3 linked regions of the Homo sapiens genome follow. The protein of the gene in region 3 interacts with the protein of the main gene of each other region in a biochemical or structural test. Each region holds a gene or a part of one and is shown on either strand. Other genes may lie near its edges.

Region 1 (3,657 bases), on a different chromosome or scaffold from region 3:
ATCTTAAATGCGTCAAAAATAAGTAAACGTTTAAGTTTTTTTAGCAGTAGGAGAATTCTCATCTTTTTGGAGGGAGGATGGTCAAGAGCTTAGAGAACTATTACAGGTAAAGTACCCAAAAGTGTACTCAGTTTGAAACTTCTTCTTTAACCTTCGATGTTGTTGGCAAGCACTACAGTGTCCATCATCCTTAAAGGAGAGATACATATATTTTGAGACAAGATCTTGCTCAGTTGCCCAGGCCGAAGTGTAGTGGCATGATCATGGCTCACTGCAGCCTTGACCTCCCTGGCTCAGGTGATCTTCCCCGCTCAGCCTCCCAAGGAGCTGGGACTACAGGCACACACCACCATGCCCGGCTAATTTTTGTATTTTTTGTAGAGACAGTTTCATTATGTTGTCCAGGCTGGTAGAACTCATATTTTTAATCTTTTTTCCATGATTAATGTAATGATATTTGGAAATGAGGCCTTTGGGAAGTAATTAGGTTTAGATGAGGTCATGAAGATGAGACCCCCCCATGATGGGATTAGTGTTCCTAAAAGTAGAGGAAAAGAGACCAGAGTACTTGCTCCATCTTGTCCCATCCAATCCCAACCCATGCCATGTGAGGACACAGTGAGAAGGCAGCCATCTGCAAGGTAGGAAGAGGGCCCTCATCAATAACCAAATCAGCCAGCACCTTGATTTTGGAGCCTCCAAAACTGTCAGAAATAAGTCTGTTGTTTAAGACACCTAGTCTATGGAATTTTATTATAGCAGCTTGAGCAGACTAACACACAGCATTAAGGTTACGTTTAAAAAATGTCCATATCCACCTGTCCCAGCCTCCCAAAGTGCTGGGATTACAGGTATGAGCCACCACATCTGGCCCTTTCTTGCTTTTTAAAAACAGCAATGCATACCTTTCTGTAATGAAGTCTGACTTGACTCATCTTGCATACTGTCTTTCTGAGCATTCACTAGATCTGCAACCAGAACCTCAAGTGATTTATAGTTGCTCCCAGATATCTGAATTTTTTCCTCCATTATTTTCTTAATGTCCTTGAAACTGAACCCCATTCGTATAGCTTCTTGTACCATAGGATTTTGGAAGATGGTATCATCTGAAATAAAAATTGGTGAGGAAAAAGAACATAGAATTTAAACAATTATTTTCATTATCACAACTCAATAGCAAAATATAGTTAAAATGAAAAAATTAAGGAGCAAGCGAAAGAATAAAAACAAACCAGCAAAGCAAAGCTGCTTTGGGAAGATTTTTTGAAGTATTCAGGCACTGAAAAATCACTTTCAGAATCTTACAATTAATTGTAAATGCAATGAGTATGTATTTTGTAGTGTTTGAAACGATGCAAGGTAAAATAGGCAAGAAAAAGGTTAAGTGCTTCAAAAATCTGAACTGTTTTGAATCTAGCTGTACTCATTAACAATTAACCTAAGTTACTTAAAGAGTGGATGTTGTTACTGAGTCACTAGCAATTATTTGGGGAAAATGATGGGAAATCAGGGAAGTCCCAGTCTATAACCTTGAATGTGTCAATTTCCTAGCTCTCAAACTTCGTTTCTGTAGCAGAGCGGGTAGGACTGAATAAAGCAAGAAAGTCAATGGAAACTTGTTTTTATGATACTTAAAGTAGGAACACAGCATGTGTAGGGAAGTGCTAGGAGAGGACACTTATACCCTCTGACTCATCAATTCCACTCTTGGGTATTAAAAATGAGTGTATATCTCTGCCAAAGATATGCACAAGAGTATTCATAGTAGTGTTATTTATAATAGCCCCAAACTGGAAACAACTCAAATGTCCATCATCAGGTGAACAGATACATAAATTGTGGTATATTCATACGCTACACAGCAAGAAAAAAAAAAAAAACTATTGCCACAGACAATATGGATGGATCTCATAGATATAATGAGCAAAACATAATCATAATTCATCATTATGACACAAAAGAGTACCTACTGCATGAGTCCATTTATAAGAACTTCAAAACTAATCTATGGTAATAAACAAAATTAATCTATGGTAATAGAAGCCAGAATATAACTTGGGGGTGGGTACTGATGGGGAAGGAGCATGAAAGAACTTTCTAGGGTTGTGGGAATGTTCTATATCTTAATCTGGGGGATAGTCACACAGATAAATATATATATTTTAACATATACATTTTAATATATATTTAACACATATTTAATATATATTTTAACATATATATGTTAAAATTCATCAAGTAGAAAACTTACGATTAGGGTACTTTAAGCACTTTATGTGTGTATGTGTGCGTGTGTATATATATACAAAATCATATATATATACAAAATCATATATATACAAAATCATATATATATACAAAATCATATATATATACAAAATCATATATATATACACAATCATATATATATAAAATCATATATATATAAAATCATATATATATATATATATATATTTTTTTTTTTTTTTTTTTTTTTTTTGAGACGTAGTCTCGCTCTGTCACCCAGGCCGGAGTGTAATGGCGCGTCTCGGCTCACTGCAACCTCCACCTCCCAGGTTCAAGCAATTCTCTTGCCTCAGCCTCTCGAGTAGCTGGGATTACAGGCATGCACCACCACGCCTGGCTAATTTTTTTGTATATTTAGTAGAGATGGGGTTTCACTATATTGGCCAGGCTGCTCTCGAACTCCTGACCTCGTGATCCACCTGCCTCAACTTCCCAAAGTGCTGGGATTACAGGCGTGAGCCACTGCGCCCGGCTACTGTATGTATATTATAGCTCAATAAATGTTTTTTGAAAGAGAGGAGGCTGGGTGCAGTGGCTCACACCTGTAATCCCAGCACTTTGGGGAGGCCAAGGGGGATTCCTTGAGGCCTGGAGTTTGAAACCACCCTGGTCAACAAAGTGTGACCCTATCTATATTAAAAAATAAAAATAAAAGATAAGGCTGGGCATGGTGGCCCACGTCTGTAGTCCCAGCATTTCGGGAGGCTAAGACGGGCAGATCGCTTGAGCCTAGGAGTTCAAAACCCCGTCTCTGCAAAAAATACCAAAAAATAAAAAAAAAAATTACCCGGGCATAGTGGTGGGCGCCTGTAGTCCCGGCTACTCAGGAGGCTGAGGCAGGAGAATGGCGTGACCCCCGGAGGTGGAGGTTGCGGTGAGCCGAGATCGCGCCACTGCACTCCAGCCTCGGTGACGGAGCGAGACTCCGTCTCAGAAAAACAAAAAAACAAAACAAACAAAAACAAACAAACAAAAAGAAAAACTCTGTTGGCAGGTTATAATACAGACAAAAGACCAGTTAGGAGACTACTACAATTGTCCAGTTGAAAAACAAGGAAGGGCCTGAACTAGAGCAGAATAAGTGGGAAAGTCTGAAGCAACATTAAAAAGGTGGAATCCATCAAATTTGATGATTAATTAAATGTAAAAGGATTACAGAGAGCAAAGAGCTTAGGAACAACATAAATTACTGGGCAACCTTGTGAACTGTGGTACTATTAACCAATACAGGAGAAAAAAGTGCAGGATTAGATTCAGTCTGAGTGGTTTTTAGAGATGCATTCTAGGTGGAAATGTCCAGAGGGCAACTAGACATTGCTCTTTCCTGCTTCTCCTATCTTTGACTTGTTTTTATTTTCAGTTTGTTTTGTT
Region 2 (3,657 bases), on a different chromosome or scaffold from region 3:
GGTCTGGGCAAAGAGATTTTTTGTGGAAGACCTCAAAAGCATAGGCAACCAAACCAAAAATAGAAAAATGGGATTATGTCAAGCTAAAAAGCTTCAGGACAGCCATGGAAACAATCAACAAAGTGAAGAGACAACCCACAGAATAGGAGAAAATATTTGCAAAGTATCAATCTGACGAGGGATTAATAACCAGAATATATAAGGAGCTCAAACAACTCTGTAACAAAAAACCAAATAATCCAGTTTAAAAATGGGCAAAAGATCTGAATAGATATTTCTCAAAAGAAGACATACAAATGGTCAACAGAGATATGAAAAAATGCTCAATGTCACTAATCATCAGAGAAAAGCAAATCAAAATTAAATGAGATATCATTTCATCCCAGTTAAAATGGCTTTTTACAAAAAAAATAGAGAACATCTTTTTTTTTTTTTTTTTTTTGAGATAGAGTTTCACTCCTGTCACCCAGGCTGAAGTGCAATGGTGCAATCTTGACTCACTGCAACCTCCATCTCCAGGTTCAAGCGATTCTCCTGCCTCAGCCTCCTGAGTAGCTGGGATTACAGGCGCCCACCACCATGCCCGGCTGATTTTTGTATTTTTAGTAGAGATGGGGTCTCACCATGTTGGCCAGGCTGGTCTCAAACTCCCAACCTCAGGTGATCCACCAGCCTCGGCCTCCCAAAGTGCTGGGATTACAGGCATGAGCCACTGCGCCTGGCCAAGAATATCTTTTCTGTAAAAAGATGCTGGAGAAGACGTGGAGAAAGGGGAACCCTGATAAACTGTTAGTGGGAATATAAATTAGTACAGCTACTATGGAAAACTGTATGAAGGTTCCTCAAAAAACTAAAAATAGAACTATCATATGATCTAGAAGTTCCACTGCTGGGTATATATCTAAAAGAAAGTAAACCAATATATTGAAGAGATATCTGCCTTCCCATGTTTACTGCAGAGATATTCATAATGGCCAAAATATGAAATCAACCTAAGTGCCCAGAAGTGGATAAATAGATTAAGAAAATGTGATATATATAATATTATTCAGCCATAAAAAGAATGAAATCTTGTCATTTGCAACAACATAGATGGCACCATAGGTCATTTTGTTAAGTGAATAAGCCAAACACAGAAAAACAACTATCGCATGTTCTCACTTACATGTGGGAGCTAAAAAAGTGGATCACATGAAGATAGAGAGTATATTAGTGGTACCAGAGGCCAGGAAGTGTGGGGGGAGGACAAAGAGAGGTTGATGAATGGGTATAAACATACAGTTTGACAGGAAAAATAAGACCTAGGATTCAATAGATCAGTAGGGTGGCTACAGTTTACAATAATCTATTGTATATTTCAAAATAGAAGAGAATAATTTGAATGTTTCTAGCATAAAGAAATATTTGAGGTAAAGGATACCTAATGACATGATTTGATTTTTATAAAATATATGAATGTATTAAATTATCACATGTACCCTGAAAATATGTACATCTGTTATATATCAAAAGAATTTTTTAATTTCATGAATGTATTTAATGCCACTGAATTGTACGCTTAAAATAGTTAAAATGGGAAGTTTCATGTTACACACACATATATACATATTATTTAAAATAGTAAAGACGCTTGTGTTTTAAGCCTCTAAAATAGTGATGAACACAAGGGAGGAAACAGAAGGGGAAGACAGAGGAGAGGGGTATGGAAGGAGAATAGGGAAGTACAGAGTTGCTAAAGGGAATGGAATATGGGTGAAGAAGAAAAACCTTTAAAAGGGATTTTTAGAAAGATTTGCTGTGTAGTATAGATATAAGCCACTTCCTCTGAAATCTTGAGCAAATTCCATATTATTCACCAATTACTTTGGTGCTTGAGTTGCAGTTTTAGTTTTAAGTGCTGACGTGGATGAGAATGGCCTTGAGGCATCCGGATATATTTGGGTCACACTAATCTAAGCAGGAATTTGTGTCACTGTGGCTTTTCTCCATTTGCCCCTCTCCTGACCCCCTTGTCTTCTCATGCCCCTGAGGACACTCTGGGCCCTGAGATGTCCTCCACCCCCATCCTGCCCCTCACCTCCACGCAGCAGTGTGCATCCAGCGGGATAATGCCCCTTTTCTCTTTGCACTCTTCACTCCCAAAGTAGCAGAGGCAGCTGGGCTGCAGCTGGAACCAGCGTTCGGCCCAGTTCCTTCTCAGGTGCCCTCGCTTCCACAGGTAGCCCTGCCAGCCGGAGTTACGTCAGAGGCTTCCCAGGCCCCCCTTCGCCCTGCACCTTGTGTGCTTCCCCTAGTTCCCAGCTTGCCTGACCTGCTTCAGGACATCTTGGATGAGCTCCTGGTAGACCTCGTGGATGGCCATGCTGAGGGTGTCCCGGCCCACGCCCCGCAGGCAGCGGCCCGAATTGAAGAGCTCCAGGAACTGCCAGACGCTGAGCCCCCCGGTGGTCTGGGCCACCTGGGCCTCCTGGGCCAGAAGCTCCTCCAGCTCACCCAAGCTCACCTCCAAGCTCATGCTGCTGAGTACCTTTTTCAGCAGGTATTCCACCTGGAGCAGGAGAAGGAAGGCCTGGTAGCTGCAGCAGGTGGTGTTGCCAGCACCAACACCAGGGAGTGCTCTATCTGGCTCCCAGAGCCTGGGCAGAGGGAAACAGGGGACAGAGCGTTGAGGGGGCCAGAGGACCGAATGTTATGGAGCCAGGGAAAAGACCTGGGAGAGGATCCTGGAGCCCCAACCCCAACTCAGGTTTTCTCTCCCCGTCCACAACCTCCAGTCCCACTCCTTCCTGTCTTAAGGGCAAGGTGAAGGGGACCTGAGATCTGGGGTCCAGAAAGAGGCAATAAATCACAGAAAGTGTCAAGGGAGTGCAAAGGCCCTCTCATCCAATCACTCATTTTGCAGATGACCAAAAAAAAGCCCAAAGGGGGAAGTGACTGGCTCTAAGTCACACAGCAAACTGGGGGCAGCCAGAACCCGATTCTGATCTCCTGAATCCCATTCAGGTCCTTATTCCAAGCCCCAATCCCCAACCCTGGGGATCTTTCCCTTGTGGGAGAGGAAGGGGATTTGGGGTAGGGGTAGGCGTTGGGGAGTGGGGAGTAGAGGTAAGCTGGGCAGGGACAGGAAACCTGTTACAGAGGAACCGGAAGTGGTGGCTGGGGTACATCCTGCTGCAGTTGTTAACTCTGTATGTTGATCGCAGAAGCAAACAACCTCCTGGCCTCCGAGGCCACCTTGCCCTGACTGGCAGGGGTCTAACAAGGGCAGCCAGCCAAGTGTATGTGCAGATGGACACATGTCCCTCACCTGCCCCAGCAGCTTTTTGGGACACTCTGTTTAGGACTTTCTGGGGGATCCTGGGTCTTGTTTGGGTGTTTAGTAGAGGGCACTGGTTCAGGGCTCGGGTGGTTCCCTTCATCACCCTTCCCACAAACAGAAGCCAGGACAAATGTGAGTGGAGCTTGACATGCTAGGGCTTCTTGTAAGTACAGAAGCCCCCTCTCCTGTAAACCCCACTCTAAAGACCTAAAGTCACCCTGGCATCTCCACAGCCACCAAGAGGACTAAAGGGTCACAAGGCCAAATGGGCAGGGGAGGGAAGTGAGGATAAGAGGGAGGGTACAGGTGGATGGGAAAATGCCTTCCCTGGCTTCACC
Region 3 (2,657 bases):
AGGGGTGTATGGCGTGGGAGGGTGTATGGCGTGGGAGGGGTATATGGCGTGGGAGGGGTGTATGGCGTGGGAGGGGTGTATGGCGTGGGAGGCGTGGGAGGGGTGTATGGCATGGGAGGGTGTATGGCGTGGGAGGGGTGTATGGCGTGGGAGGAGTGTATGGCGTGGGAGGGGTGTATGGCGTGGGAGGGAGGGTGTATGGCGTGGGAGGGGTGTATGGCGTGGGAGGGTGTATGGCGTGGGAGGGGTATATGGCGTGGGAGGGGTGTATGGCGTGGGAGGGGTGTATGGCGTGGGAGGCGTGGGAGGGGTGTATGGCATGGGAGGGTGTATGGCGTGGGAGGGGTGTATGGCGTGGGAGGAGTGTATGGCGTGGGAGGGGTGTATGGCGTGGGAGGGAGGGTGTATGGCGTGGGAGGGGTGTATGGCGTGGGAGGGGTGTATGGCACGGGAGGGTGTATGGCGTGGGAGGGGTGTATGGCGTGGGAGGGGTGTATGGCGTGGAAGGGGTTGTATGGCATAGGAGACATGTTGGCCCAGAACCCCCCCCGCCACTTAGGCCTTGGCTCTCCTGTCCATCTCCCCAACCAGACTCGGTGAAATACCTGGAGTGCTCAGCTCTCACCCAGAGAGGCCTGAAAACCGTGTTCGACGAGGCCATCCGGGCCGTGCTGTGCCCTCAGCCCACGCGGCAGCAGAAGCGCGCCTGCAGCCTCCTCTAGGGGTAAGAGTCCCCCACTCTAGTGCCCAACTCCCATACACAGCAGGCCCTGGCTGAGCAGTGGCCTTTGGTTCACTGTGAGTGGCATTTAGGCCAGGACAGAAAGAAGGTGGGTATGGAGGTTGCCTCAGTTTCCGCAGCCTACTTGTCATCTGCCTGGGCCAGTCTCACTCTCTGGAGCTCATCTTCCAGAGGCAAGGCCCAAGGTATGAATGAATGCCTGGTAACCCCCCACCCCCGGGCCAGGGAGTGGGTGTCACGGAGCCCCACTCTGCCCATTCCTGCAGGAGGTGATGGAAAAGATGCCTTGGTCCCTGGCCCTAGGAGAGCCCAGTCGAGCCAGGGAGATCCTGCACCCACATATGTGGGTGGAGGTGGGAGAGCCTGAGCTATGATCCCCAGGGGGCAGATGGTGGGGTCAGTGAGTTGGAGGCAGCCCACAAGGCCTCCTGGAGGTGTGGGACCAGAAGGACAGAGAGGACTGGTGAGGTGGGGAGAGCAGCATTGGCAGTCCTGGTGGGAGTCAAACCTTGAGCAAAGACCTGGAGGTGGGAATGAGCTGTGAGCCAGGAAGGCGAGAGCTGTGGATTCTGCATGTCCCCAAATTCTCTTTCCCTGCTTATCTTCCTTCCAGGTTGCACCCCAGCGCTCCCACCTAGATGGGTCTGATCCTCCAGGATCCCCACCCAAAGCCTGATGGCACCCCGGCTGGCCATGCTGTCCCCTCCCTGTGGCGTTTCTTAGCAGATGGCTGCAGAGCTTCGTTGATGGTCTTTTCTGTACTGGAGGCCTCCTGAGGCCAGGAACGTGCAAATTTGCAGGTGCTGCATCCCAAGCCCCTCATGCTCCTGCCTTCCTGAGGGCCAGAGGGGAGCCCCAGGACCCATTAAGCCACCCCCGTGTTCCTGCCGTCAGTGCCAACTGCCGCATGTGGAAGCATCTACCCGTTCACTCCAGTCCCACCCCACGCCTGACTCCCCTCTGGAAACTGCAGGCCAGATGGTTGCTGCCACAACTTGTGTACCTTCAGGGATGGGGCTCTTACTCCCTCCTGAGGCCAGCTGCTCTAATATCGATGGTCCTGCTTGCCAGAGAGTTCCTCTACCCAGCAAAAATGAGTGTCTCAGAAGTGTGCTCCTCTGGCCTCAGTTCTCCTCTTTTGGAACAACATAAAACAAATTTAATTTTCTACGCCTCTGGGGATATCTGCTCAGCCAATGGAAAATCTGGGTTCAACCAGCCCCTGCCATTTCTTAAGACTTTCTGCTGCACTCACAGGATCCTGAGCTGCACTTACCTGTGAGAGTCTTCAAACTTTTAAACCTTGCCAGTCAGGACTTTTGCTATTGCAAATAGAAAACCCAACTCAACCTGCTTAAGCAGAAAATAAATTTATTGATTCAAGTTTGGAGATATCGTGATTTCAGGTGCAGCTTGATCAAGGTATTCAAATGATGTCATCGAGGCTTGTTTAGCTCTGGGCTCTGCCTTCTGCTGGCTGGTTCATTCTCAGGCAGGCGACTTAGGGCTTCATCCTCCCAAGTTCAAGTTCAGGGTTTCATCCTTCCAAGTTCAAGTTCAGGGCCTCATCCTTCCAAGTTCAAGTTCAGCCAAAAAGAGCAAATGTCTATCCCAGGCAAAGTTCTAACTAAGATTTACTGTGATTGGACCAGCTTAGGTCCTGGGCCCCCTTTTAACCAATCATATTTGTCAGAGTGGTGCAGTGCTGTGCTCTGACTGGCCAGGCATGGACCATATGCCATGCTGGAACAGAACTGCGGCAACCCCAGCGAAAGCGTGTGTACTGGGGGGGAGGGTGAGTTCCAAAGTGGGCTGAGAGCCTGGCGGGAATTTGGGAATTTGGGCGAGAAACCCTCAACCTCCACTACTGGAGGTCATGGGAAAGTGTTCATTTCAGCAGTGAAATGAAACAATG

The links.
Region 1: the proteins of RAC2 (region 3) and XIAP form a complex in vitro, tested with the Homo sapiens proteins (one study listed by IntAct).
Region 2: the proteins of RAC2 (region 3) and DEF6 form a complex in vitro, tested with the Homo sapiens proteins (one study listed by BioGRID).

Annotation. Positions count from the first base shown.
Region 1 is NC_000023.11:123,897,942-123,901,598, reverse strand, and holds part of XIAP (E3 ubiquitin-protein ligase XIAP), read right to left. Parts: intron 1,107-3,657; coding exon 906-1,106; intron 1-905.
Region 2 is NC_000006.12:35,311,193-35,314,849, reverse strand, and holds part of DEF6 (differentially expressed in FDCP 6 homolog), read right to left. Parts: intron 2,637-3,657; coding exon of another isoform or gene 2,549-2,636; coding exon 2,312-2,548; intron 2,225-2,311; coding exon 2,078-2,224; intron 1-2,077.
Region 3 is NC_000022.11:37,224,738-37,227,394, reverse strand, and holds the end of RAC2 (ras-related C3 botulinum toxin substrate 2), read left to right. Parts: intron 1-591; coding exon 592-722; 3' UTR 723-724; intron 725-1,355; 3' UTR 1,356-2,125; downstream 2,126-2,657. UniProt on the Homo sapiens protein: Plasma membrane-associated small GTPase which cycles between an active GTP-bound and inactive GDP-bound state.